Linked DNA regions of Homo sapiens: region 2 is linked to region 1. A link means that fine-mapping ties the variant in region 1 to the expression of a gene that starts in the linked region. Tissue or cell type: nasal epithelium. Region 1 holds a variant in brackets; the other region holds the start of a gene. All regions are shown on one strand. Distances are between the middles of the regions.

The links. PIP is the estimated chance that this variant, and not a neighbour inherited with it, causes the effect.
Region 2: IL13RA1 starts here. The variant in region 1 is fine-mapped to the expression of IL13RA1 in nasal epithelium (TOPMed, PIP above 0.99).

The regions. Positions count from the first base shown.
Region 1 is chrX:118,675,118-118,679,117 of GRCh38, reverse strand. It overlaps DOCK11 (dedicator of cytokinesis 11), which reads right to left. Exons shown (of 53, transcript NM_144658.4): 47 at 3,069-3,182; 48 at 2,381-2,527. Among named protein-coding and RNA genes, the nearest start is that of IL13RA1, 50 kb to the left of the region's middle. The variant G/A (reference allele first, on the strand shown) is at 1,635.
Region 2 is chrX:118,725,350-118,729,638 of GRCh38, reverse strand. IL13RA1 (interleukin 13 receptor subunit alpha 1) reads right to left here and starts at 2,033. Exons shown (of 11, transcript NM_001560.3): 1 at 1,913-2,033. The coding sequence starts at 2,000. RefSeq lists a silencer at 1,995-2,424.

The DNA.
Region 1 (4,000 bases):
GTCTCTAAGAAACATAAAAAAATTAGCTGGGGTATGGTGGTAACACACCTGTAGTCCCACCTATTCAGGAGGCTAAGACAGGAGGATTGCTTGAACCCAGGAGTTTGAGACCAGCCTGGGCAACATAGTGAGACCCCGTCTCCACACACACACACACAAAAACCCCACAAGAAACAAAAATAAGCCAGGTGTGGTGGTGCACACCTGTAGTCCCAGCTACTCAAGAGGCTGAGGTGGGAGGATCGCTTGAGCACAGGAGGTCAAGGCTGCCGTGAGCTGTGATCGTGCCACAGCACTCCAGCCTGGGCGACAGAGCCAGACCCTGTCTCGAAAAAAATTAAAAGCGGCCAGGCGTGGTGGCTCAGGCCTGTAATCCCAGCACTTTGGGAGGCTGAGGTGGGTGGATCACTTGAGGTTAGGAGTTCGAGACCATCCTGGCCAACATGGTGGAACCCCAGCTCTACTAAAAATACAAAAATTAGCCAGGTGTGGTGGTGAGCGACTGTAATCCCAGCTATTAGGGAGGCTGAGGTGGGAGAATTGCTTAAACCCAGGAGGCGGAGGTTGCAGTAAGCCAAGATGGCACCAATGCACTCCAGCCTGGGTGACAGAGCAAGACTCTGTCTAAAAAAAAATAAAATAAAATAAAAAGAAAAGAAAAAAATATACATCTTGATAGATTCATATGGACACTTACAAATCTCTCATGCTTTTTAATGTCTAGGTGGTTATATCCATTATATGGGTAATACCGCCATTTCTTTAACCATATGGACATTTAGACTGCTTCCAGGTTTTTGCTATATAAATTTTGTGGCAGTGAACAACTTTAAACATATACATTTATATGTGTACATCTACAAGATAAAATGTTAAATGTGAAATTGTTGGGTCCAAGGACACATACATTTAAAATATTGGAAGATATTGCCAAACTCCTCTTCAAATTGCCTTTGCCCTTAAGCAGATTTTGTTCTTTGGCAAGGGAAAAGAATATTTTTAATTTTTATTTTCACAAACTGAGAAAACAATAAATATATTTTAAAAGCCAGAACTGCTTATTATGTCTGTTGCCTGTGGGGAACTACTAAAATATGATACATAACAAACATCAGGAGTCCAGCCACCTGTAGTGGTTTGTCGCTAGCATTCTTTGGCCCAGTTTTCAGAGGCAGAATAAGGTAGAAAACTGCATGTTGCACAGAAAGTCTGACTTTTCATTACCTTTCCATTTATACAGTAATCAATATTGTGGGAACAAGTCTTACACTATCTGGCTGCAAGGGGAGAAAATCTTCTGTTGTCTCAATTCAACGAAACAACACAAAATAGTGAAACTGATAAGGAAAGAAGTAGAGAGTGTTTGCCATATATTACGTTGAAACTACCACCAAATCTATTTTTAAATGTCTTAGGCATGTGTTTAAGATAAAGTCATCTCCAAGAGATATATGTAAGTATACAAAGTGAAGAGATTATTTTCGTGGTAGACAATGAAGTGTCTTTACAATAGCCATGGGCTTTTTCACTCTGGTAATGCTTCCTGCTAGCTTTTAAGTGTTCTGCATAGCACTGCGCATATCATAGTCACTCAGTAAATATCACTGTGGATACAAATCTTGAACTTTATATGA[G/A]CTTCCTACCCTTAAAAATCAGCTCTAAGTCTGGGCACACCCAAGGCAACTAAGGACAGTCAGGCATTCCTACAGTGCTTCCCCCAAATCCTGTCTATAGGGAACTATGCATTTCCTAGGAAAGGGCCTCTCTTGCTATAATATAAGCCTTCTCACTATGCCTTGGCAGGGCCTAGTGGGATGGATAACCTTTAGAGCAAGGCTCAAGGATCTCTCCTAAACCTATTTCATTGCAAATGTTAACTACAGTCACTATTACTGAACTAAGGATATCTTAGAATAAAATGTGTGCCCCAAGGTGATTTTAATCATGATGTAACGGAGAATCATGATGTACAATAGCATTTACAATAATATCTAACCTTTAGTGAGCATGCTAGCTTGCTATTATTAGTGAATGCTTTTTATGTACCAGGAAAGTGATTATACTTTCCATATATTAACTCATTTAATCCATACAACAACCTCATGAGGAAAATACTACTATTATTATCTCCATTTTATTACTAAGAACGATGAAGCACAGAGAGTTAAGTACCTTCCCCATGGTCACACAGCTAGTGAGTGGCAGAGAGTAGAGATTTGAAGCTTGGTATCTCTGACTCCAAAGCCCCTGTTCTTTCTTTTATTATCTGGAAAGCTCTGTTTTCATGCTTCTCTACCAGTTAAAAAAGGAAAAAGTCAGGAGCAATGTACAATGCCTGGAACTAACAAATAATGATTTCAACATGTAGGGTATGTGTTACCTTGTCTGAATCCTGAATTATTTTGACATTCTCCGTACCAAACTTTTCACCATAAAGTTTAACAAGTCTCAAGGAAATTTCTGAGAGGCCAGTGAGCTTTGGTTCTTTATAGATGTACTCCTTTCCATCTTCTTCTTCAAAAAAAGACTATTATAAAGTTAAACAAATAATAACTTATAAATAATATGAGCAAACACAACATTTAAAGAAAATCTACTAAATAACTAGTAATAATATATTTGAAATAAATTTTGAATAATATTACTAAAAGTCCCATGCTTGTATTTACCCTTTTAATTTCAAATACATGAGAATTTTTAAATTCCTGGTAATTTTCAAATTTATAATCACATAAACATATGGCCTGAGGAAGATTTCCAAACTAGGTTTTTTCCTTCCCTGTACACTTACCTGTTTTTTATTTAAAAGTTTTAACTACTATATATTTAATATGTACTTTAAAAAGCTTAACAGAAAATGAAACTGACAGAAATCAAAACCTTTTCTGTTGTATTCTGACCTGAAGGGTTTAGATATGAGAACCAAAGTGAACTTTATACATACAAAAGAGGCTCCCTGCTGTTGTAATAGGCACTCTATCTGGATAGACTCCTAGCTGCTATAGTAAACTAGTAATTCAAAGGTGAATGTTTAAAAAGGAAAACTTTATGGATTCAAGTACACTTACTTGGCCATAAAAGGCAACTCTGAAGAAAGTGCCTAAAAGTCTCTTTTTTGTATGCATAACTTCCAGAATTTTTGTGTAAGCTCCATGAAGAGTTCTATAAACTTGAGTAAGTTTCTGAAAAATAAAAATATACAAATCAGCTTTGTTTTTTGTTTAATTACTAAATGTCTTCAAGATGAATGTACAAAAATAAAAAGCACCAGTATATTCTTTTCAAAATGGTCTTGGTGGGGCCATTCATACTCATCTCCCTTTGTAACAATCAAAGTCCTCAACAACTTTAGGTCTAAGGGTAGAACTTAAAATGGTAAAATAACACTGTATTTCTTTTTAAAAGAAATTTCTTCTAAAAAAAAAAGGGGGGATACATGTGCAGAATATGCAGGTTTGTTACATAGATAGATGTGTGTCATCGTGGTTTGCTGCACCTATTGGCCCATCCTCTAAGTTCCCTCCCCTCACCCCCCACCCCACAACAAGCCCTGTGTGAGTTGTTCCCCTCTCTGTGTCCATGGGTTCTCATTGTTCAGCTCCCACTTGAGTGAGAACACGCGGTATGTGGTTTTCTGTTCCTCAATGACAATGTATTTCTTAATATCATGCTTCATTTCATTCACATCTCAATGGAAATTTTAAATTTTGAAATACTGTATTATCAACTACTATTTTCTACAGGATCGGAATATTTTTAACTGAAAGGGCAGCCAAATGCTTTGCTTGAGCCCTCAGGTAGAGAGCTATGAGAATAAACAATCCATGTATTTAAAAAGGAAAATAAAATGCAAATATAAAAATAAGCAATGGTGTAAGCTGCAGTGAGGACTGCTTTTATGCAAGTTCACAGATATTTCCAAAGGATATGTTTTTCCGCACTTCCAGAAAAAGAGAGCACGTTGTGCAAAGAACATTATCAAAAATGTGAAAGACGAGCT
Region 2 (4,289 bases), 50 kb before region 1:
ACATGCCACAATGTGGGCCATTGAGTGGGACAGGTTAAACTAAGCTAGTAATCTAATCACTTTTATAAACACTCTGAGGATTAGAGCTGGAGGAGCTCTTAGAATTTATGCAGTTCAACCTCCTCATTTCACAGATGAGAAAACTAACTGCAGCACAAAAGAGAGGAAATGACCAGCCCAGAGTCCCACAGGTGGTAAATATCAGAACCACTAAAACTCAAGTCTCACTGGAAACATCTAATTTTTTCCCACCATACCTCAATGCAATTCTATCAATACTTTTAATGGGGAAAGAAGTTTGTTTTCTAAATAAGCAAGCTAACGACAAACCATTGTGACAGGACTGATGAAGTTGGGAGTTGCCAGTATTCTCTAGATGGCCAGCTGTTGTTTCAGGTGTGTGTGGGAGTGAGTCTGTAGGAGGGAGGGTGCTGGAGTGGCACTGTGAAAATCAGGAGACTAATGAGACGGGTAACTTTAGACAAGTTCCTTCCCTTCTCTGGACTGCAATGTCCCCATATGATTACGGAAATCAGGTGTACCCAACTAAACTAGAGGCCCTTTTGGGGCAAGAATTTTGCTATACACTCTCAGGTTCTAAGTCAACCTAGAGGGCCTGACTCAGTACTAAATAAGGCAGACACCTGAATAATTATTGACTGACAAGCTTCAAGTCTCCCTCAGGTCTCTACTCAAATGCCACCTTTCAGCAACATTTGTTTTCTTCTCGATCCACCCTTTTTACAATGGCAAACCCCTTCCCACCTGCTCTGTTTTTCTCTACTTAACACCCTCAGACATATCATATATTTTACCCCCACCCCCCGATATGTCTGAGGGCAGGCACCTCATCTGTTTTGCTCACTGCTGCATCCTCAGCCCCTAAACACTGCCTGGCAGCATGTATTTTATTGACTGAATCCATAGAGGGCATTAAGGTTTCCTAATCAACATTTCAACTTGGATTTCAAAGCACATTGGTAAAAATGCAATAAGCATATATAAGTGTTTGTGTCAATGTGATAATAAAACCTATACAGTTTGGGGCTTTCATTGTCACCAAAAACGTCCAGAAGGCCATTCCTTCCAGGAGCTGCTCCTAAGGAAGTCATTAACTCCCAATTTTTCACAACTGCCAGGTTGATTAACTAGAAGTTACCAAACAGGGTGAGGGATATACACAACTCTCTGAAGTATCTTTGCAACTTTTCCATAAATCTACAATTACCCTAAAATATAAGGTTTATTAAAGAGAGTGGGGTGGGGGGAGCATCTGCCGGGATGCTATTCTGGATTTCCCAAAGGATTTCTTCGACGCCAGAGGAGGTCATGAGCGTCACGTCCTTTTTCAACAAGGACTGAGATGTTTAGAGGTTCCCTTCAACTTCCACTCGCAAGAGCCACCCTTAGACAGTGAGGATTGGCGCGGCCTCGGGCAAAGAGCCCCGGCGCGTTCTCAGCTCGCCTGGACTTCGGTCGTGGTCCCCGCCGGCTCTGGCGCCTCATTTCCTCCCGGGCTCACAGGCGACATTCCGGGCGCTGACCCACGGCCCTCTGACGCCGTGGGCATGTTTCGGGCCCCCCGCCCCCGCACGCCTGGACGCCAGCCTCCTGGGCTCTTCCCACTACAAGTCGCAGCCCTCTTACTTCGCTGCCGCCACCTCCGCCGCACCCGGAGTTCGGGAAAACCCCGCAGCTCCCGGGTCCCACCTCGAACCGGCCCCAGTACCGGGCCCCAGAGATCCCGCGCGGGAAGCCGCAGCCGCCGAGCGCGGGGCCTCGCGAGGGCAGCCCCCAGCACCCACCCCAGCTTCGGCCCTCCGCCCGGCGTTGACCTCCGGGGCCTTTCAGCCGTGACCCTCACCGCCCTCAGCCCTCCGGCCGCCCCTCGGGCCCCGAGGGTCGCACTCACCCGTAGGCGCGGCGCCCCCGCCCCCGCCCCCGCCGCCGGCGCAGAGCAGCAGCGCCCACAGCCCGCAGAGCCGCGCCGGCCACTCCATGCAGCCTCTCGCCTCGGAGCCCGGCCGGGCTGGAGCCTTGGCAGTCCCCGCCTCCTTCGCTCCCTCTTCCACTTCCCGGCTCCGCCGCCCTGGAGGCTGGGGGCCGGCGCAGACGGGAAGGGCCGCCCCGCCCACCGGCCTCAGGTAACCTGAGCCGGCGAGAGCGGCCGGAGGAGGCGGGGCGGGGCGCCGGCGGCTCTGGCGGCTCTGGCGGCTCCTACGGCTCCCAAGGCTGGACACCTGGCCCACCCGCAGCTCCCGCGTCCGGTCTCTGACCGAACAAAACTTCTTCCACCACGTCGCCGCCCACTCCGGGCGCTGCCTGGGCCTCCTCCCTCCGCGTGGCGGAGCCGGCGTCGCCGCTGCCAGCACACTTGCGGGGCCTCGGAGGTGCTAGGGGCTGTGCCCTGCTGGACACCAGGACAGAGTCATCTGCGGAAAAGAGCCTTGGCCTGGGAGTCTGGAGACCTGGCTTCCAGCCCTTGACCTCTGAGCCCTTGTTTGCTAGCGCTGACTCCAGGGTTAGTAATACCAGCCCTACTTCACTGGGTGGAGTTGGGGACACTGGCAGTACTGTGCTTTGTGAAAAGGACAAAGGGCATATTTGAAAGCTGGCAATACATAATGTTGATTTTAAAAGGAACATTCCAAACATGAGGGAGGATACCATACGTGCATTTTTTAAAGCACACGACAAACTTTCTACATATTTTTCAAAGGGATGGGAGGTGAATCGGAAGAATACACATTGATACTTGGGCGCCTATGAGGGTCAGTGAGGCTGGGAGGAAGGAAAACAAGAGTCCTTAGGCGTTTCCTGTTGCTGCTGTCAAAAATGACCACAAATTTAGTGATTTAACAGTTTTATTTTATTACAGTTCTGGAGGTCAGAAGTGACACTGAGCTTAAATCAAGGTGTGGGCAGAGATGTATTCCTTCTGGATATTCTAGGGGAGAATCTGTGTCTTTGACTTTTCCAGCTTCTAGAGGCTACCCACATTCCTTGGCTTGTTGCGGAACTACTCAGACCTCTGCTTCCCTTGTCGTATCTGACTCTGACCCTCTTACTTCCCCTTTTCCCTTATAAATACCCTTGTGATTAGATTAGGTCCACCAGATAATTCATAATAATCTCCCCATCTCAAAATCCTTGATTTAATCATAACTGAAAAGTCATTTTTGCTATGTAAGTTAACATATTCACAGGTGTTGGGGATCACGATATGGAATCATGGGAGGGGGACATTATTCTATCACCTTCTCCCAAAAAAGAATCATGTCTAGGTGGATGATGAGACCCATAATGAGGTGTATTTTGGCCGAATTAAGCCAATGCATATACCTGAAAACAGTTACAAAAAGTATAGCAATAAAAATGCTGATAATATACCTAGTCTAGACCCCACCCAAAGGGCACAGGGTTGTTTAACCTATTCACAACAAAGGTTCCACTCTTGGAATTAAGGCTCTCAAACTCAATAAATATTTATGAAATTGTTCCAGGAACTGTTGAAGACACTCACCAAAAGCAAGCTCTGCTAACAGAAAGCTGCAGTCAGTCTGAGGGGCAATGATAAGGGCAAGAACAAGGAATTATGGGATACAAAAAGGGTACCTTTTGGGAGGGAAGGAGCAAGGGAAGCTTCCAGGAGGAGGGCCTGCCTGTGCTGAATCTCAGGATGTTGATTCTTTTGGCTAACGGTTCAGAATAAATTCCAGAATCCAGGCATGGTGGCATGCACCTGTAATCCCAGCTATTCTGGAGGCTGAGGTGGAAGGATCACCTGAGCCCAGGAGTTCAAAACCAGCCTGGGTCTGTAACAGAGTGAGACCCCGTTCTCAAAAAAAAAAAAAATAAATCCTGGCTTGCATGTGTTATCGAACAAAATAATGTTTATGAAAACAGTTTGTAAAGTATCAAGGCCTGTAGAACTGAGAGATAGTATCATTATTTCTAAATCCCTCCCACAAATAGGTCAGCCACTGTGTATCCCAAGGCCTTTCCTCCACCACCACGGACATATACACTTGTTGACATTTGCTATAAACATTATACAATAAGTTTATAATAACGTTTCCAAAATGGTTATGTCATCTGCCTTTTAAGGAGTCTTTAGTTGGAACAGGAGCCCCTGGGGACTGGCTGAGTGCCATCATGGGCACTGCTTGGCATAGATTGACCAAGCGCTTAATAAAACAGTAATGGTAGCAAATGATTAGAAAAATAGGGATTGCAGCTTGTCATGAGCTTCCAGAAAAGCCCTGAGAATCTGAACATCGTGAGGAAAA